Linked DNA regions of Homo sapiens. The protein of the gene in region 2 purifies or fractionates together with the protein of the main gene of each other region. This does not show direct contact. Each region holds a gene or a part of one and is shown on either strand. Other genes may lie near its edges.

Region 1 (8,412 bases), on a different chromosome or scaffold from region 2:
TTATAGACTGGATAAAGAAAATGTTATACATATACACCATGGAATACTATGCAGCCATAAAAAGGAACGAGGTCATGTCCTTTGCAGGGACATGGATGGAGCTAGAAGCCATTATCCTCAGCAAACTAACGCAGGAACAGAAACCCAAGCACCACATGTTCTCGCAAGTGGGAGCTGAACAATGAGAATATATGGACACATACTGGGGAAAAACACACACTGAGGCCTGTTGGGGGGTGGGGGTGGGGACTTGGGGGAGGGAGAGCAACAACAGCTACTGGATGCTAGGCTTCCTACCAAGGTGATGGGTTGATCTGTGCTGTAAACCACCATGTCACATGTTTACCTATGTAACAAATCTGCACATGTACCCTGGAACTTAAAAGCCAAAGAAAATAAAAAAGAACTGGACAAAATACAATGGACCATAGGCAGCACAAGACTATGACCCTTTAAAGAAAGGAATCAAATGAGGTGAGATGCTAGTTCAGGACAGCAGAGCAGTTTTGCTGAGTGGAGGAGACAGAGGGTGGAGCTCAGGAAGGCTGACACAGCTGGAAACTGTGGGGCAGAGGAGTGGGGGACACAGAAAAATAACTCCAAAATACAGTCTTGGGCCTTTGCTATCTACCAAGACACTCATGCACACAGCAAAACTTCAGAAGGTCTGGCCAAGAGCACACAGGAAATAGGAGCTGTGAGCTGAATGCTTCTCAGAGCTCACATTTTTTTCAGTTGTGTTTCCATGGCATCAACCTCAGCTCCCTTTTCCTTATAGTTCACAAATTCAACCTAGCCAATCTCAACCATGTCTACAGCTTCACCCACGTTGGTAACTTCTAAAACCACATTGTAAACATCACCACTAGACCTCCAGAGTCAATTCTAGCCCCCTCCCTTATATGACAGGCCAATAGGTCCTCTTGATTCCACCTCCTTATCTTTTTTTTTTTTTCTTGTGGCAGGTCTTGTTCTATCACCCAGGCTGCAGTGCAGTGGCACAATCATAGCTCATTACAGCCTTGATCTCCCGGGCTCAAGCAATCCTGCCTCAGCCCCCGAAGTAGCTAGGAATATGAGCACATGCCACCACAGCTAATTTTTTTTTTTTTTTTTTAAGTAGAGACAAGGTCTTGCTATGTTGCCCAGGCTGGTCTTGAACTCCTGAGCTCAAACAATCCTCCCGCCTTGGCCTCCCAAACTGTTGGGATTACAAGCATGAGCCACCATGCCTGGCCTATCAATTTTTCTCACCATGACAACTGACTTGGGTCATGTCCTCATTTCACACCTGCCTCATTGTGCTTTCCCATCTGGTTCTGAGTTCCTCTAGGATCAAAGGACCAAGTTCTTACTATTCATGTTCATATCCCAGTGTTACTGCATATAATTTCAGCTGGCTGAAAAAAGGATTATATGTAAACTGAAAAAACAACAACAACAACAAAAAAAACACATAGCTCTGCTGGGAAGACATGAAACTTAAAAGGAAAGATCATAAGATTATAACCAGATACAATCTATCAATTATAGCCTATGCCCTATCACCCCTGCAAAATATTTTGCTTAAGCTTACATCTCTAGCTTTGAGATTAAAATTACCCAGATATCAAATTATAACACTTTCTAATAGTGACAGAAGCCACTCACCTCAAGAGGAGTCCAAGTGAGGAGCTGAAGTCGTATGAGGGGGTTGAATAATTTTGGCAAACAAAGGCCAATGTAAGCATCTTTGTAGGATGTGTAGTATTTTGAACGCCATGCTTCAAACTGTGATTTAATACAGTCAATTGAATAGAAACTTTCAAGGACATCTTCAAAAACTTTGCCGGATTCTTTTGAAATTCGATCTAAAAACAACAAAACCCCACAGAGAACCATACATTAGTATGAAGTAGGAAAAAAACAGTCCAATATTTTCAGTGTTTTCTTTGTAGCTTCAGTATCAGAAGATACGCTCATTAACAAAGGGCCAATTGTTAGTCACAATTTAGAAGAAAAAAATAAATTGAAGTTTCAATTTGTCTATTATGTAAACTAAAGTGCAGCCAGTCCTTGTTTTGCAGTTCCAGTATATACAATTTTTCTACCACAGTTTGGCTAAATAAAACCTGTTCCCAAACAAGATGGTTCAAATTTCAGTTACTACGGTGTATTAGCCATAAGTAATTGTGCCGCTAGCTTTTTAGTTCACAGATCACTGCACAGATTAACAGCTGTGCATCATAATCAGTCACTAATCACATTGCTTCATTCAAACTCTGTTGGTGATTATAATAACTGACATAGCCAACTATCAGCTGAATGGATGCTAGGAACTTTAAGTGAAAAGTTATTTGCGAATAAGATTTTTTTTTTTTTTTTGAGACAGATTCTCACTCTGTCACCCAGGCTGGAGTGAAGTGGTGCGATCTCAGCTCACTGCAATCTCTGCCTCCCAGGTTCAAGTGATTCTCCTGCCTCAGCCTCCTGAGTAGCTGGGATTACAGGTATGCGCCACCATGCCCAACTAATTTTTGTATTTTTAGTAGAGATGGAGTTTCATCATGTGAGCCAGGCTGGTCTCGAATTCCTGACTTCAAGTGGTCCGCTGCCTCGGCCTCCCAAAGTGCTGGGATTACAGGTGTGAGCCACTGTGCCCAACCAAGAATAAGATACTCTTATGATGTCCCAGATTACTTGGGAAAAGGAAATATTTACAATGGAGAGATAAAGTTCTGAGAACCTTTACTGCAAGATCAATCTTAACATTGCTAATAGTGGGGACAGTCTAACATTTGTCATGTGCTTTTAAGCAGTATGAAACAGCATCCTGTATAAATTATTCTTGGGGAAGAAAAAAAAAAAGTTTAACTTAAATCTAATTAAGCCTTCAGACCTAAATTCCAGTTTACAAGAAATGGATCAAAGAACAAGTTAAACAATGCTATGAGGAAACATACAGACCAGTCTAGAATATAGGACAGTCTATAAGAGAAGTGGCCTGGTCTCTTCAAAAATTTAAAGAACAATAGGGGTGGGTGTGTGAATGTGTACTTAGGGTTACTCATTTATTCCAGATTTAAAAATGTCATAACCAAATGCAGAGCATGAACCTTAGGTGGATCCTGGTTTCAAAAACCACAAAATAACCCATAAAAATAGTTCCTAAAAAGGGTTTTTCCAGGATGCCATTGAGAAAAATTATATATGGACATGATATTAAGAAATCTGTTTTCTTATTGTGCTAAAAAAAGAAATACTTAATCAGAATAGGCATCTAACAAAAAGAAAAAAGATAATAATACTGTGATTATACAGAAAAATATACTCATTTAGAGGAAACACACTCTGAAATTTTGGGGAGTGAAGAGCCATGAGGTCTGTAAGTTACTTTCAAATGGTTCAGCAAACACACACATCTCCTTGTATAAAGAGCCAGGCAAACTTGGTGAAATCATAAGCATTGTTATCTGAGTGATAGGTATGTGGATGATCACTGTGCTAGTCTTTCAAATTTTGTTTAGAAATGTTCACTGTAAAAAAAGTAAGAGAAAGAAGCTTCTCCAACTAAGTTCCAAATGGTGTGCAATTGATATAATTCCAAACAATTATAGCCAATGGTGGGAAATGAAGACTTTTATTTGGGATCCTTCTGAAAATGCCTGGCACATAATAGTACTAACCATTCCTCTAAGGTGAGATTACTTATGACTCCCCAAATCAAGAGTTTCCTTCAGGGCTGAGTGCTCTACTGCCAAGCTTTACCTTTCCAGACCAGACAGGCTGCAATGAGAGCTGCCCTCAAGGACCTGACACATTTCCAGTCACTTAAAATTCTACCATTTGGAACAGTAACAACATTTATTATGCAAATACTAAGTACACCCTATGAGAAGATGTTACCCCTATTTTTGAGAATTCATCATGATATTCACTAATAAAAAGGCATGCAAATTTCTGCAATTAAAAAAGAAGTGTCTGGTTCTAATGCAGAGACCATGAAGATTCAAATCATTTCATGGTAAAAACCATACCCAAGTAGAAACTAAACTGATGATGAGTCTTATTTCCAAATAAATGTCTAACCTTTTTCCAGATTGAAATTAGTAATATCTGTAGAAGTTTCTTCATCATCACTGGAAAGGCCTTCAAGGTGATCTGCCATCTTACCGGTTTGTTCTCTGGCTTGTCTACGACGAGTCCTAAATAATAAACATCAAGTTCCCAAACTAGATAACAGAGACTCCTCCCTTCCCAAACAAGCCAGAGCAAGGGTTTTGAGAATTACCTCCTGGCCTCCCGCTCTGCAATGCGACGTTTTGCATGCTCTTGATACAGTGCCCGATCGCGTCCAAAGGAGTCAAGATTTGGTGCCATCAGAGCTTTGTCTGCAAAACAACAACAGTTAAAATTAAAAGCCATCTTTCAACAATCTTGAGGAAAGAGTTTGCACAGAATAAGCCATTACGACAGACTGCTTGCTAATCTCAACGGCAAGATTCTGCAATAACTGGTAAACCAGGTAGGTTTTTGGTTTAGAACAAATTTCATTATTATTCTGCGTTCCCATTTTAAAAAGTAGAAAAATTAAAGAAGTGATTTCTTTTTAAGAGTTCAACAACCCTACAAATATGTAATTGGGCTTACTCACTATTTTTATGTCTAAGTAACAGGACAGCTATCAGGAATAGCTATCATGATGACCAAATAAATTAAAACTCTAAATTACCTGTGCAAAGGGAAAAATATTACATTTTTAAGGAGGAAGAACTTCAGCATCACATTGAATGACAGCAGGAAAACATAGGAAGACATAAGAAAACAGCTTTGTTGCAAGAGTTTAATAAATTTATTGTAATTTTGCTTTGTAGAAATTTGTTTTCTATCACTATTTTTAGAATAAGGCATCTGAAAACCGCATCTGAGCAGGACCAACTTCCGCCTTCTCAAATGCTAATCTTTCTCTTTCACAGCATAGTTTTATTTTATTTTTTTGGTCTTCGTATTTTCCATTTCTCAAAAAACATTCTAGGGTAATTTCCTAGCTTTAGCTTCCAATCCTATTTAAATTTATATTTCAGTTATCATATTTTTAGTTTTCAAGAGATAGTTCTTGTTCTTACAATATTCCTCTTCTACAGCATTCTATATACTCCTGTTGAGTAGGATACCTTCTATTATCTCCCTGGGGCTCCCAACTGTTTGAAAGTAATCTGTTTACAGAAAACTTGCATACTTGTACCAGCACTGTCTGTTTCCTCAGTCCCTTTGGTTCTGCTGCTCAGGTTGGTCCTTATGATCATCGTTAACTGCCTGTTCATATAGAAGAGCAAGACTGGAAGCTGTGTGTGTGGGCAGGAGCTGTCTAACAGAGGTGTCTCCGTCGGATCACTAGGTACTGAGCCAGTTCTTTTGTTGGGGATCCCCAGATTTTAGTGTTTCAGGGTCTTTATTTTGGACCTACTCTCTTTAATCAAAAAAGACTCCCCTAATCTCTTGCCTAGGTAAAAGAAGGGGTGGGGGAAACATCTGTCCACTATACTTCCCTCATTTCTACGTTTTAGTTCCACACTATGAAGATATGACAGTAAGGGGAGGCAAACAACCCAAACGACTGGGTGAGAGGGGAGGGAGGTGAGCACATGCAAGATGAAAGACATCCAAGTTAAGACTTGCATATTTTTTTACTTATCAATTGATATTTACTGATATCAACAGAGATGTGTCACCAAAATCAGCAACAGGAAAAACAAAACCAAAATTTAGCTCTTACTTCAGAATATCCTAATTATCAGACCTTACTATCTATCTATCTATTTATTTATTGAGACGGAGTCTTGCTCTTGTCGCCCAGAATGGAGTGCAATGGCACAACCTCAGTTCACTGCAACCTCCGCCGCCCAGGTTCAAGCGATTCTCCCGCCTCAGCCTCCTCCTGAGTAGCTGGGATTACAGGCACCCGCCACCAGCTAATTTTTGTATTTTTAGAGACGGGGTTTTGCCATGTTGGCCAAGCTGGTCTCAAACTCCGCCTCGGCCTCTCAAAGTGCTGGGATTACAGGCGAGAGCCACCGTGCCTGACCAGACCCTACTATTTTTAAAAGTTGACTTTTTTTTTTACTGAGTTTTTCATTCATATTTCAAAATAGCTCTGAAATTAGGAAGGAGGTATGTTCCTGAGTGCATCAATTACAATGAAAAATTACTAAACCAGAAAGATTTCCCAGCCCTAGATGTGAGTTCACTACACACCCCAGATGAATTAGCTAAAATATCCCAAACTATAAAAATAATTCCAGACTCAAGAGTTTTCCTTCAAGAAATATTTTTAAAAATATCATTATACGGCTGGGCACGGTGGCTCACGCCTGTAATCCCAGCACTTTGGGAGGCTGAGGCTGGTGGATCACGAGGTCAGGAGTTCAAGACCAGCCTGACCAACATGGTGAAACCCCGTCTCTACTAAAAAAAATACAAAAATCAGCCAGGCGTAGCTGAGGCAGGAGAATTGCTTGAACCCGGGAGGCGGAGGTGGCGGTGAGCCGAGATTGCGCCATTGCACTCCAGCCTGGGCAACAAAGCGAGACTCCGTCTCAAAAAAAAAAAAAAAAAAAAAACATTATACTTAAAACATCACTGCATGTATAGGTTTTGTAAAATGTGCACTGGAGGAGACAGGTGAGTCTAACATGACTCAAGTGATAGCCTCCTCCATTTCTGTAAGAATTATACACAGTAATTGCAGATAAGTGCTTATAAATCTAAACAGAAGAATTTCAGACTATTCTTTACTTCTTTAAAAAACAGATCAGAAAATGAATTGATTCTCCAGCATCCCATGTCATTTTCCTCAAATCTTTGGCAATTAATGTATACTCCCTCTAGGACTGTATTTTTCACTTTCCCAGTATCTTTTAATTTCTTTCCAACTTTCAATCAAACTAATATAAATAATTCAACTCTTCTTTCAAATCCCCTCTAAGTAAATAGCTCCATATTCTCAAGAACAAATTACAGATGGGAAAAGGTATTTGATGAAATGTACAGCTCACACAAACCATCTAACTTAAAAGAAAATTACCTCCCTTTGTAGTATAATGGTTACCTGTAATCTGCCCCAGAAATCTGGTTCTGTCTGGATCAAAAGTGATCTGGGAGGGATGCATGAGTCATGTAGGTGGCTAATGTCAATAATCCAATTTAAAATTCAGTGGCAAAAACAGAAGGTCATAGCCATTTATAGGGCTCATAGCTGAGACTACCTCAGCTATGAGGGCCGTATTACCATCTGTTTATGCCTCTCCAAAACCCATCTGACATATAGGAGGATGCTTTTTCAGGGATCCTATGTCTCTCTGACTTAGAGACCATGTATAGCAAAGCATTGCTTTCTGAAAGAATAACATTAGAGCTATTTGCATTTGATCACCTGGAGAGATTGTTTAACATGCAAATTTCTGGATGCTGAAGACCTAGTAAGAATCACTGGGGATAGAACCAGAAAATCTGTATGTTAAACGAGTATCAGGTAATTGTGATGCACACTTCCATTTGAGAAATGCTGACAAAGGGAACAAAGAAATGACAAAAGAAACCACAAGGAATTCACACTAGGAAAATTCCTATTAGCGCACTCAAGAATATGGAGGGTAACGGAAAAAAAGGAACTAAACGGTTTAAAACATCCAGTTAAAGGACCTCCGCTGAACTATTTAACAAGAGGTTTCTAATTCTGGTTTTCCATAACACATGTCATAATGATGGAAGTACAAATTCAATTTCTATCCATTTGTATACAAAATTTCAAGAATTGTAAGCACCAACTGACTTACTAAAAAACACAGTACATAAAGCAAACTAGAGAAACATTTAAAAAGAAATTACAAAAAGTTTGCTTTATCCAAAGGATGAAGCTCAAAACTCTCCTATCTTGGAGTTGTGTCATTTGTTAAGTTATAGCTTCCCTCCCCCTACCCACAACATGTCCCAGTCCCTAAACTCAAACTCTTTCACTGTGATCAACAAAAGCATTTATTTGTATTGGTGTTTTGAATGAAAATGGGGGAAAAAACCAATTAGGGCCAAACAGATAATGGTTTTAACATAAAATACGGATAATGTCTTTTCTATACTCTAAAGGAGAATGAAAAAATATGCCCAAAGAATAAGAAGACTGACAGAATCTTAGCACGTTTTTGAGCTCCTTTGTGAAGCTCTATTTTCTTAAACACAATTCAAGTACATGCTGTTACCATTTTTAGATCTACCTGACACAACAGCAAGGAAATTGTTTCTTTAAAAAAAAAAAAAAAAGCTCCAAGATCTCTAATTTTCAATTAGGCTGCACTAAGTAAACAAGGTTGTTTAATGAATAATAAAAACCTTCAAGATGGACTGACTTGAATGGCTTGAAAACTCCGAAGATTCATC
Region 2 (8,412 bases):
AAGCAATCCTCCCACTTTAGCCTCTCAAAGCCTCTCAAAAACCACTATGCCTGGGCCATTTAGGACTTTCATAGCTAGAGAGAAGTCAGTGCCTGGCTTCATATTTTCAAAGGACAGGCTAACTCTCTCATTAGGAGCTAATGCAGCTGGTGACTTTTAAGTTGAAGCTAATACTTACCATTCCAAAAATCCTAGGGTCCGTAAGAATTATGCTAAATCTACTCTGCCTGTGCTCTAGAAATGGAAAAACAAAACCTTGATGACAGCACATCTCTTTATAATATGGTTTACTGAATTATTTTTAGCCCACTGTTGAGACCTACTGCTCAGAAAAAAAAAGATTCTTTCAATATATTATTGCTCATGGACAATACACTTGGTCACCCAAGAACTCTGATGGAGATCTACAAGGAGATTAACGTGGGGTTTTCATGCCTGCTAACACAACATCCATTCTGCAGCCCATGGATCAAGGAGTAATTTCTATTTTCAGTCTTATTATTTAAGAAATAACAGCCAGGCGCAATGGCTCACACTTGTAATCCCAGCACTTTGGGAAGTCAAGGCAGGTGGATTGCTTGAGCCCAGGAGTTCAAGACCAGCCTGGCCAACATGGTGAGACCCCATCTCTACAAAAAATACAAAATTTAGCCCAGTGTGGTGGCATGCACCTGTGGTCCCAGCTACTTGGGAGGCTGAGGTGGGAGGATTCCCTGACCCCAGGTAGGTTGAGGCTGCAGTCAGCCATGATTGCACCACTGCACTCGAGCCTGGGTAACAGAGCCAGACCCTGTCTCAAAAAAAAAAAAAAAAGTCAAAACCATTTGTAAGGCTACAGCTGCCATGGATAGTGATTCCTCTGATGCATCTGGATATTGTAAATTGAAAACTTTATGGAAAGGCTTCACCATTCTAAACACGTTAAGAACATCCATGATTCATGGGAAGAGGGCAAAATATCAACATTAACAGGAATTTGGAAGAGGTTGATTCCAACCTTCATGGATGACTTCGAGAGATTCAGGCCTTCAGTGGAGGAAGTAATTGCAGGTGTGGTAGAACAAGCAAAAGAACTAGAATTAGAAGTAGAGCCTGAAAATGTGACTAAGTTGTTGCAGTCTCATAAAAATTGAACAGATGAGTTGCTTCTTATTGATGAGCAAAAAAAGTGGTTTATTGAGATGGAATCTACTTCTGGTGAAGATGCTGTGAACATTGTTGAAATGTCAATAAAGGATTTAGAATAAACTTACTTGGTAAAGCAGCAGCAGGTTTAAGAGGACTGATTCCAATTTTGAAAGGAGTTCAGCTGTGGGTAAAATGCTATGAAACAGCATTGCAGCATCACAAAAGAGAAATCTTTTGTGAAAGGAAGACTCAATGCAGCAAACTTCATCGTCTTATTTTTAAAAATTGCCACAGCCACCCCGCCTTTCAGCAACCACCACCCTCATCAGTCAACATCCATCAGCATCAAGGGCAGACCCTTCACTGGCAAAAAGATTAGGACTCACTGAAGGCTCAGATGATTTTTAATGTTTTTAGCAATAAAGTATTTTTAAATTAAGGTAGGTACATCTTCCAGACTCCTGTTAATGTTGATATTTTGCCTCCTCCCATGAATCGTGTACTTAATGGGATCTAGATTTTTTTAGACATAATGATATTGCATACTTAATACTAACTGTAGTTAGTGTATAGTGTGAACATAACTTTTATGTGAACTGGGAAACCAGAAAATTTGTGTGACAATTTATTTTGATACTTGCTTTGTTGTGGTGGTCTGGAACCAAATCTGCGGTATCTTCAAGGTATGCCAGTAGAATGAGTATGTGCTAACCCCATGCACTGTCGCAGGCTCTGAAAGGACGAAGAGATGGATCTCCAAAATGCCATGTTCTTTAACACTTCCTGCCCTATTTTCACAAGTTACCATCTCTCCGAAACCCTTCAAAGCTCTCCAAACAGTTACTCTTTCTGTTTTTCTCTTTACCTTATCCATATCTTATCTATAACATTCATTTTATATTGCAACTACTTGCTTTCCTGTTTATCTTCACCACTAGATTGAACTCTTTAAGTTAGTATCTTAATCCTTCCGTATTTTCCCAGCACCTAGCACAGTGCCTGGCACGAAGTAGTGGGTAACAGTTGTATTTGTTGGTGACTGTGCTGTTATCAGGTTAGACTTCGTGGAGGAGGGATATTTAGATAGACTCTCGAGCATGGTTAGGTCAGCAGGTAGAGATGAAGAGAATGGCATGGGTAAAGGTGTAGAGATTTGAGAGTCATGGACTGTATGTAGAAGTGTTAGAGGGGCTAGTGGAGGTGAGGCCATGTGGACTATTTAGTAAGCAACAGGGAGCCATTTTTTTCTTAGAGGTAACACAGGGAATGACTGATCCCCATGACTAAAAATAGGGATGATGACAAAGAGGGTAAGGTTTGAGAAAAGGGACATAGATTGAGCGATGAGGAGAAGATGAGACCCAGCTTTACCTTGCTTGAGGTCCTGGTGATGACCCTGTATGCACAGTTGACAGCTTGAAGGTTACAGCTTGGAATGCTATCTTAAGAGAACTTCGGGAATCCTTTCCAAGTAATATCAGTGATTTTCGCTTATTTATGTACTCAAGGGAATTTCCCTTAGAGAAGTACGCCATGTTTCAGTGTGAGAACCACTTCATTTTTAATCAGTTTGGCAATATACAGTATTCCCCCATTATGTTCCAAGACCCCCAGTGGATAATACTGAATTCTATATATACTATGTTTTTTCCCATACATATATACCTATGATGAAGTTTACTATATAAATTAGGAATATCAGCAGATTAGTAACTAATAATAGAACAATCATAACAATATACTCTAGTAAAAGTTGTGTGAATTTGCTTGTTTGCTTGCTGTCTCTAAATATTTTATTGTACTGTACTCACCCTTCTTTCATACTACAGTTGACCACAGGTAACTGAAATTGTGGAACATGAAATTGAGGATAAGGAGGGGACTACTGCAGTCAGGATTTTAGTCATCTATTAACAAAAAGAAATGAGTTTCATGGGAAATCATTCCATAATTAAGCTAAATCATCCTATTCACTTTTATTTTTTTTGAGGCGGAGTCTTTCTCTGTTGCTTAGGCTGAAATGCAGTGACTCGATCTCAGCTCACTGCAACCTCCACCTTTTGGGTTCAAGCAATTCTCCTGCCTCAGCCACCCAAGTAGGTGGGATTACAGGTGCCCACCACCACACCGAGGTAATTTCTGTATTTTTAGTAGAGACGGGGGGTTTCACCATGTTTGCCAGGCTAGTCTTGAACTGCTGACCTCAAGTGATCTGCCTGCCTAGGCCTCCCAGAGTGCTGGGATTACAGGCATGAGCCACTGCGCCTGGCCCTATTCACTTTCTTGAGAGTTAATTCAGAAATGTCTCTGAACAGTCATCAGTGGCTACTGCCACTGTCCTTAGACTATTTCTCTTGTTTTCCAGGCAGTCACATTTAAAAAGAAAAAAAGAGAAGAGAGTCAGAATTAATTATTCTCAATTTAACAAACAAAAGGAATGATTTTATTTCACTTTCCCATATTTTTGGCTAAAAATACTTACTACCTATTTGTGGTCATTTATTGGAGACTTTCAGAGAAAAATTGGCAGAAACTGATGAATAATCAGTGAACTAACATAGATACCATTAAAGAGAATGTACTTGTGCAGTGATAGAGCAGACTTGAGAACTTGAGTTATAGTTAAAATGGCACAAGCAACTTGCCAGGGCTTCATGTAGTTCATCATTTTCCATTCTGTTGGTCATTCATGAGTAGATCAACAAATATTTCTGGAAGTCCCTGCTGTTTTCCAGGCTTTGTGCCTCTCCAGAAGGCACTTGCCCAGTGGAAACCAGCAGAAAAACATTGGTACCACAGTGCAATACATGCTACCTATGAGCTATGCACAGTGTAAGAAACAAGAGAAGGTGAGATTTAGGTAAGCACTTCTAGAGGCTCTAAATCTGGAAGGCAGCTTGAGTAGGAGTTGCTCAGGGGCTGTGGGGCTTAATAAGCCGTAGGAATTTGTTCAGAGACAGGGGAAGCAAAGGAGCTAATATATTTATAAATCTCCAAGTACTCAAACCTTGCCATGCCAGAGTCTAGATGCCATGAGAGAGTGGTACAGGATAAAGCTGTGGTTATGGGCTGAGGCTAATTCTTGCAGGGCTTTGTCGCCTTGTTTGGGAGACCAGGAAGTCTCTATGAGAAGTGGAGTAATGAGTGATTGTGTTTGAATAACATATGAAAACATATTTTGGTATGCATACCTTTCAACCCAACAGTTCCACCTCTAGTGAACTGTTAACATTAAAAGTTCTTGCATACAAGTTCCCAAAAGTGAGCAAAAATGGGTGCATGAGGTTTTTTCATAGTAGAAAAAAATCTGGAAACGAGCAAAATTTGTATTTACAAGATGCTGGTCAAATAAATCTTGAGGTGACCATATATGTAATTAAATGCAAGGCAGTGATTTTTTAAAAATCAGATAATTCTATATCTTAAAGTACTGTACAAAGATATTTTTTGAGTTAAGTTGTGGGAGTGGGGCTCTTACGGTGTCTCACATTTCAAAAATCTGAATCAACTGGCAAAATATTACCATCTGTTACACATATACAGGGAGTACATGGTTTCTGTTATGTTATTCTCTGTACTTTATGTTTGAGAAATTTCATAAATAGGGAAAAAGCAAGTCACAGGAATAAGTACAGTGTTGTTGGTATACAAAAAGTTTTATGTACCTACATAGTTGTATAGACGTGGAAAATAGCTGATAGAATATCCACCAAACTGAAGCTATTAGGAGGGGGAAAAGATGAGCAGAGGTGAGAGAGAGAGTACGTTTTACTTGCTGCTTTCTGTACTTTGATGGTGTTTATTTCTTGTCTAACTCAGAGAAGAGACAGGCAAAAAGTGCTGATGAGGAGCAAACAACTGACATGGCACAGTGCTGCCCTGAGTAGGCTAGGAGTGACAGCAGTACCCAAAGCAGAGGGTCCCTCACACTAGTAACTACAAGCTGGGTCCTGCTGAGATGGAAATGAATCCCACCGGACAGGCACTCCAGGCTGAATGGCAGTTAAACCTGTTCCCTTGTGTGGCAAGCTAAGTCTCTTTGGAGTTACCTTAAAATTCATTGCCCTTATTTACTCAATAAAGATACCCTTCTCATAAATAATTACAGTTTCTCTTAGAGGCAGTGGTTCTGTTTGTCTCAAGATCAGTGATCTACACATTGTATTTGTGTTTTTCCCTAGAGAATTCAGCCTCAGCCCCCAGATGAAGATGGGGATCACAGTGACAAAGAAGATGAACAGCCTCAAGTGGTGGTTTTAAAAAAGGGAGACCTGTCAGTTGAAGAAGTCATGAAAATTAAAGCAGAAATAAAGGCTGCCAAAGCAGGTAGGTCTAAAAGTAATCTGGTTTTTCTAACAATTTAAGGAGCCCAGGGTATGAAATTGTTTATTTTATTTAGTAGTGTGGTGTGTTTCAAGGTGGCAGTTCCGGGTTCAAGCCTTAGCTTTGACACTTACCAGATGTGTAACCTTGAGCAAGTTATTACACCTCTCAGCCTCGATTTCCTCATCAGTAAAATGGAAATAATTGTACCTATTGGGTTGTTACCAGGATTAAGTGTGAATTTAAGTAAAAGCATCCTATTTTTTTTTTTTAAATAGATGGTTAGACTTATAAACCAGTCAAAAAAGGTGTATTTCATTACTGCCTGAAGTTTGGTATGATATGTAGTATATTTTTCATTATTTCTGAACATTTACTACATTGCTTTAGGGGAAAATGCTGTAGTTCCAAACAGTCACTTTTCAAACTACTTAAAAATACAACCTGATTGTAATTGGGAACTGACAATATTATAGAATACTTTAGCATGTGAGTTTTTATTAAGTAACTGCATGCCTTGAGGGCAATATAGCTAGAAACAATGGAGAAGACCAGACTGAATCAGATTCAGGGATATCCTTAAATACAATATGAGATTTTCTTATTATTTGCTTCTAAGGTAAAGGCAAAATAATGAGGAGAAGAAAGTTCTTAAAAATTCTGTTTTTGCTCAGATGAAGAACCAACTCCAGCCGATGGAAGAATCATATATCGAAAACCAGTCAAGCATCCCTCAGATGAAAAATATTCAGGTTTAACAGCAAGCTCAAAAAAGAAGAAGCCAAATGAAGATGAAGTAAATCAGGACTCGGTCAAAAAGAACTCACAAAAACAAATTAAAAATAGTAGCCTCCTTTCTTTTGACAACGAAGATGAAAATGAGTAAGTGTAAATATTTTGAATTTAGTCTACTTTGAAAGTATATGGAGTGTTCATTAAAATCACATTTTTTCCTATTATAAAGATACTACAAGTTCTTTATAGAAAGTTTAGGAAATAGAGAAAAAAATTTAATAAACTACATCTATTCATCAATACCCCTCTGACTTAAAATGCCAACTCTATAGAAATTAGCTAGTATTAACATTTTGTTATTTCCCTTGTGTGGTTGTATATATATGTAAATTATATTTTTAAGCAAAATACATTTTTTGTGTGTAAACAAAATTTTATAAATACAACTGTATTGCAAATGTTCTTTGTCCTGCTTCTCACTTGACATTGCATTACGAGTATTCTTCCAGGTCAGTAAATTTCAAAAACCTGACATTAATAGCTACAGATAATTTCATAAACATCTCATTGTATCTTTTTCATTAGCAATAGCTCCACTTTGGGTGGGGGAGATGATAATGTGCCTTGTTAAAAATACCTCCCCAACTCCTGCTAAGGGTGGCCATGAGACTCAGCTCTGGCAAGTTAAGAAATACAGGTGGAATTCTGCTTGATAAAGCTGCTGGGTTTTTTGTTACAAAAGGACAGACTTGGCAAACATGAGCCTTTGCTCTTATCTTTTCATCCTACTTGGAGTGCAGAGATAAAACCTGAGTACCAGAGCCACTTTTAGGCATAAGGAAGGCAGCCATGTGCTTTGGGTCATGTTAGTAAAAAGACTCAGAGCTTGGCTCCTTGCTGACATGCCTGGAGGAGCTGCTACACCAGCTTGGATTGCTGACCTCTGACTTCTTGGTAGTGAGAAGAATAAACACTGTGCTTAATTAGGCCTTGGTCAGGTTTCTTTTATATGCAGCCAAATGCAGTCCTAAGTAATACAATAAATAACTGGTCAAACTGTTACTGGTGGAGGGTGTCCAGGTTCTTGGCATTTTGGACAAATAATTGAACAAAACGCACAAAGCAATGAATATCCTCTAGAGGTTTGCCATTGGTTACTTGGCGTACACCCTGTGTAAATGAAGTAGTGGCCCGTGACCTGTCTGATTGGTGCAGAAAGTGACCAATCAGAGGCTGAAGTGAAGTTACAAAGTTATACTCCTGTGTAAATGAGGACTTGGCCTATGACCAGTCTGATTGGTTGCAGGAGGGGACCAATCAGAGGCACTTTCATTTTTCATCTGCAATGCAGAAAAGGCAAGGGGATTGCAAAGGGAGTAGCCTCTGATCCTTTTGTTACTTAGGTATGGAGAGGTGGGGTTTTCCTTTTGATTCAGTTCTAGGAAGTCAATGTGAATCAGCCTTAGGTTCCCTGTCTCCAGACCCTATTCTCCTGCCTCATTTTCCCCCTGAGAGACGTGATCCTCGTAAATCTTTATGGGAGGCTGAGAGACTGAGGGTCTTTCTTCTGTAACTGCTTCATGCTAACTTGGGACACAGTCCCTACCTATTGGAGATCACGTAACTCTCACCCTGCTTTGTCTAGGGGAGACAGGGTAGCTTCTTGATGGCCGGTGGTGTCTTCTCCTGAAACTGGCTAGAAATCTTGTCACATGATCATCTAACTTGGTGGTCTCTAGGCAAAAGGAAATGGATTTGGTTAAAAGATTTAACAGATATGGTCCAAAAACCAAGGCAAATATAATCATTAATAATGGGCTGGCCAAGGGAGGGAGCCATGAAACCCAACTTAGTGCCCTTTAGGTGCCCCAGCTGTTGTCATATTTTAGAGGCCCAGTCAGCTAGTTTTCAGGTGGTGTCCCTTACTAATCCTGATTGGTTGACATCAAAACAGCATTCTTCTTCTAGGAAAATACATAAGCCACCTGTTTCAGCAGTTAGGAGATCTAGTCCCCTTCGATTTTGCAAAGCGACCACTGCCAAGGAGCCTATCCGAATTTGTAAGGTGACAATACTTTGAGCAATGTTATCCAGGCTTTCCATAAAATCCTTGGACAAGCGTTGGTAATAGGATAGGGAAGTTGCAATCCCGCTAACTCCCATTCCTACCTCTGCTGTTATTCCTAGCCGTTGTGTCTGGTGGTTGCAGTTAAAGGTATAATGAGG
Region 3 (5,253 bases), on a different chromosome or scaffold from region 2:
GATAATATGTGATGGGACTTGATTGTCTTGTTAGATTGGCAGCTTGCCTTTACCTGGGCTGAACCCAGCATGCAGAAGGGAAAAGCACTCACAAAAGAGAGGTCCTGAGATTTCTTCATATCTTGCAGTTAGAAGAAAACAGTTCAGGGTCCATGTGTATTACCATCTCCCAATCTTTTCTATCTCTATGTGGGTGTGTTTGTGAGCGCATGTGTACACATCCCCAATCTGAAAATACTGATAGAAAGGGGAGTGTGCGGAATTCCTGGTTATGAGTTTCCCAAACTTACCATGGAGTAACTGTTTGTTTTTTGATTAATGTGTTTTTGGAAAAGAAAAGATGAGAGTGGCTAACAGCAGGAGCTGCAACATTGAACTTTGCTTCTCAGTAGTGAGTGGGAAAAGAGCTTTGCTGTAGAACCCCAAGGATATCTGAAAGCTGAGGCAGAAGAGAGCAGGCCTGGAATACTGAAAATGGCAGATAAATAAAAGAAACTTTGGTACAGGACCTACCTGACCTGAGAATATATACATGGGCAATAAATTATGAAGGTGCTAAGGATAAATAGAACCCATCTGGGTCCATGATGCAGAATAGAAAAACAGGTAAAATCTTGTGAGCCTGGCTGAAAGTCAGTCAGCCGTGGCAACCAGAATAAAAAAAAATTTCATTTATATTTTTGCCTATCACCCTTTCTCTACCCAATATTTAATCCTCAATGAAGATAAACCTAATGTACCACAAGTGCGATGGGGGGAAACCTTTTTCTCACAGTTGAGCTGGGACGGCATTCTGGCCCCATTTTTAACATGAGAAATGTAGCTTCAAAACAAACAATAAAAATATATTTAAAATAATTATTATTTAAAATGTTAAAATGTTGCACAATATCATCTGATGTGTTACTTTAGTCAATGTGTAACACTTATCCTCTTCCTTAGTTCATTTCAGTGAACACTAGGAAGACAAAGGATTGGAGTGGGATATGGTATATTTAGTTTTTATTTATTTATTTTTGAGACGGAGTTTCGCTCTTGTCGCTCAGGCTGGAGCGCAATGGCGCAATCTTGGCTCACTGCAACCTCCGGCTCCCGGGTTCAAGCTATTCTCCTGCCTCAGCCTCCCAAGTAGCTGGGATTATAGGCGCCCACCACCATGCCCGGCCATATTCAGTTTTTATTAGTTCGTGATAGTAAGTTCTCAGATGAGAACTCTACTACACCATTCTCCTAATTCCTCCCTTGGTCACTGGAGAGGGAACAGTATGAAACTATTTCCATTGTTTTTACTTGGATAGGGTAAGATATAGTAAAGGCATCTCTCTGCTGCATACAATAATAAAGAAGAATCCAGAGACCTAGATTATAAAAACATGGTCAGTATATGGAGCTGTCTGTAAAGAAGACTTTTTTTTTGCTTTTAATGGTGAATTTTATGATATATAGATAATACTTGATTTATTTTAGGAGGAATATGAGCATCATTTTAAGAAATAAACATTTCATCTTAGCAAAAGATATATCAGTTATATTAAATATCAAACCAATTAATTAATTAAAACAATTAAGTACAGTATCAGGTATGAAATATCCAAAATAGGCAAATCCATAGAGACAGAAAGTAGACTAGTGGTTTCTAGGGGCTGGGAGTAGAAGGGAATGAGAGACTATTAGTGAGTATGGGGTTTCTAATATTCTAGAATTAGATGGTAGGGATGGTTGCACAATTTTGTAAATATACTAAAAACCACTGAATTGTATAATTTAAAGGGTAAATTTTTTGGTATGTGACATATCAATATAGCTGTTATTTACAAGTAAATAAGTTCTATATCTTGCTTCAGGTACATACATACATGCAAAAATTCACTGACTGTACACTTAAGATTTGTGCACTTAACCATATGCATGTTATGCCTCATTAAAAAAATTGAAAAAGTGAATGAGTTTTCAAATCCAAATTTGTCAACTTGAAATTTTGATCTGAGGATGAATAGCAGTAAGGGAGAAATTTAAATATTTAGAATTACTCCAAGGGTATATTGTGGTAGGGTATGTCTTTAGCATGAAGTGTGTGAATTTCATCTCAAGGTTGTCTAGGGGCTAGATTCTACCCTGCCGAGTTCAAAACCTGTGTATAACCCACAGCTGAGATCACAAAGACTTGTGCCAAGAGGGCCACATTTGGGGCTCATGGAGAAGTCAATCTGTAAAACTTGTAATGAAGAAACATTTTTACTAAATGAGTAATCTAAACTAGAAATGAACAGAATCATATTCAATATTTATTTAAAAAGAAAAAAGAGAAGCTAAATGTGCTGGTTAATTTTTTGTTGGCTTACTTGTTGGTCTGTGATCGGTGTTGTCAGGCAGCTGCACTCCCATGCTTTGTAAAAGATTGGAAGCAGGTCCTGCCAGTCCAGCTTGGGAGCTATAGGATTCCAATATATTTGAAACCAGGTTCAGGTCTACATCTACTGGTGCCATAACAGATTCTCCCGTACCAGAATCTTCCTCATCTGAATTGTTATCGGTAGTCTGGGATACAGGTTCCTTATTCATAGAGGGAAAAGAAAATTATGGGCTAATGTATCATTAGGTTGCATGGTGGTTACAATAAAAAGATAACTAAGCCACAATGTAAATTTGCATTCCAAATTAAAAAGGAAACTTCTTATCCTTGGTGATATAAACTGAAAATGAAGTCTACAAGTTATATGGCCTAGCACACATAATAAAACTTGGTTCTAAAGGTTATAACACATTTCTCTCCAGGAAAGATTCCTGCAAATCGAATAAATTGCATGTCTATTTTGAAATAGCTCAAGGGCTAATAGAATTAAGAAGGTACATTTATAACTTGTCTAAGAGTCTTAAAAGAAACAAACATAAAAGTGAATATTAAATGAAATAATAATGTAAATTTTCTTCAAAATGAAAGAAGCGAGTGTTCCTTTCTTTCCCCCCAGTGAAAAAGCTTAAAAGTAAAAACACAAGGCTTTGTGGTTCCAACCACAAAGATTCTAAATTGTTAGTTGGGCCTCTGATTCCACAAGCTGGGGAAAGGATTTGAAAGATTACAGCTCGATAGACTTTTATGTCCTTGCTACCCAAAGCATTGTCCATGGAGCAGCAGAGTCTCCATCGCTTGGGGCTTATTAGAAATGGAAAAACTCAGCTGGGAGTGGTCGCTCATGCCTGTAATCCCAGCACTTTGGGAGGCTGAGGTGGGTGGATCACTTGAGGTCAGGAGCTCCAGAGACTAGCCTGGCCAACATGGTGAAACCCTGTCTCTACTAAATATACAAAAATTAGCCAGGCACGGTGGTGCGCACCTGTAGTCCCAGCTACTTGGGAGGCTGAGGCAGGAGAATTGCTTAAACCCAGGAGGCAGAGGGTGCAGTGAGCCAAGATCGTGCCACTGTACTCCAGCCTGGGTGACAGAGGGAGACTTCCATCTCAAATAAAATAATAATAATAATAATAAAATAAAACAAAATAATAATAAAAAAAAGGAAAATCTCAAGCTTCATCCCAGGCCTACTTAATCAGAATCTATGTTGTAACATGATCTTTTGGTTTATATTCGCATTAAAATTTAAGAAATACTGCTTTAGATAAATCTAATGTATGGTTTCTACTAGATTTTGACAATTCTGGAAGTGACTATAGTTTTAAAAGTGGTTTAGATGATCAAAGCAAGGAGAATTAACATTAATTAAAGGCCTATTGTAGGTTTTACTGCTGTCTAATTTGGTTCTCATGTTAATTTTATGATATGAGGATTACTGGTTTATAGATACATTCACAGTGGACAGCTGAGCTAGACTTCAAACCCTAACCCATAAGACTCCAGGGTTCTTGCTCTTTCCATAATACCTCTGTTTAGGATTAGACAGTGGTGGCATTAAAAACTAGGATGAAAACATAAACGGAAGGTGAATCCTAAATTTGGCTCTAAATTAGGGAAAAATACAAAATAAACTGTTAAAACTGGAAAGTTATTTGAATGTTTAAGATCCTGTTTATTTACTTATGTTATTTTGTTTTAATCCACTGTGGCCCAAGGCATAGTCTCAAAAGGTCTTGAGAACATGTGCCCTCTCTTTTTTAAAATCCATTTAAGCTGTAGTTTTTTTAAACTACTTTTGAAAAAAAATGTATTTAAGAAGTAGTAGTGTACAATCGCATTCTAATTTGAGCATATTATATGACTTTTTATTTTAAATCCTGATAGATAACGTAGAATAAGTAATATAATGAAGCTTATGTTTTGGAAAATTAAGTCTATGATCCTTTATCCTACCAGAGTTAGGAAAACAATTAACATTCTTATTTATTTCAAATCTCACACACCAAAAAAAGAAAAACTATGATAAAATATGGTTTTAGCTATCTGACATACTAGACTCAGAAAGAGAAAGAGGTTAAAAACACACATACCACTTGGTTCCTAGTGGTGAAACTTTTGCTGATGCAGGTGTGTGCTAGTTCCTGGTCCATCTGGGCCATGTATGACTTGAGATTATCAAGTGTTCCTTTCAGGGAAGCCTCTTCGCCAGGTTCGTGTGTTTCAAAGTCCAAGTCATCATCACTATCTAAACATTCAAAGTCTTCATCATCCAGATCATCAGAATCTGACTCATTAGGCCTTGGCCCTACACAGATCCCAAGAAAGAAAGAGCCACTTAGTAATTATTATTATTATTATTATTATTATTATTATTTAGTTACTACACATCTCAAAATAATTAGAATGTTACCCACAGAAAAAGACTAATACACACAGTCAGTCTACTTCACAAAAATCCCTTCTACAAATGGTAATGCTGGCAGATATGTGTGCATTTAATGTTGTGGAAAAGCGTACAAGCTGAATCAAAAGATTTAGCTTAAAAAAAAGTGAATTCAATTAATTAAAATATTTTTCTTAAAAAATTTTTAAAAATACCTAATAAATGAATACATTTTGATGTAAACATTCAAGCCATACAAGTATTGTCTCCAATCTCACTCTCTCCCCAGAGGTAAGCATCTTTTAGCAGTTTCCGGGTATCCCAATCTTTCTCTCTGCAGTTCTGTACATATATACATATTATAATTATTTTTTGAGTTATCTTTTTATTACTGATTTGTAAGTACAGTAATTCCAAAAAAGAACAATATAATATGGGAGCCAAGGTAAAACCCTATTTAAACACACAGCATTCAGTCACTCTCAAATATTTAATGAGGCCGGGCACGGTGGCTCAC

What was found.
Region 1: the proteins of KIAA1143 (region 2) and PAXBP1 purify together in Homo sapiens (affinity purification with mass spectrometry; 2 studies listed by BioGRID and IntAct, with this or other methods). This does not show direct contact.
Region 3: the proteins of KIAA1143 (region 2) and ECD purify together in Homo sapiens (affinity purification with mass spectrometry; 2 studies listed by BioGRID and IntAct, with this or other methods). This does not show direct contact.

What each region holds. Positions count from the first base shown.
Region 1 is NC_000021.9:32,746,849-32,755,260, forward strand, and holds part of PAXBP1 (PAX3- and PAX7-binding protein 1), read right to left. Parts: coding exon 8,382-8,412; exon of another isoform or gene 5,268-8,381; intron 4,505-5,267; exon of another isoform or gene 4,406-4,504; intron 4,371-4,405; coding exon 4,271-4,370; intron 4,185-4,270; coding exon 4,069-4,184; intron 1,851-4,068; coding exon 1,651-1,850; intron 1,401-1,650; coding exon of another isoform or gene 1,365-1,400; exon of another isoform or gene 1-1,364. UniProt on the Homo sapiens protein: Adapter protein linking the transcription factors PAX3 and PAX7 to the histone methylation machinery and involved in myogenesis.
Region 2 is NC_000003.12:44,751,266-44,759,677, reverse strand, and holds part of KIAA1143 (uncharacterized protein KIAA1143), read left to right. Parts: intron 1-5,309; coding exon 5,310-5,454; intron 5,455-6,070; coding exon of another isoform or gene 6,071-6,125; coding exon 6,126-6,337; 3' UTR 6,338-8,412.
Region 3 is NC_000010.11:73,132,261-73,137,513, forward strand, and holds the end of ECD (protein ecdysoneless homolog), read right to left. Parts: intron 4,659-5,253; coding exon 4,444-4,658; intron 2,554-4,443; coding exon 2,323-2,553; 3' UTR 1,408-2,322; downstream 1-1,407. UniProt on the Homo sapiens protein: Regulator of p53/TP53 stability and function. Inhibits MDM2-mediated degradation of p53/TP53 possibly by cooperating in part with TXNIP. May be involved transcriptional regulation. In vitro has intrinsic transactivation activity enhanced by EP300.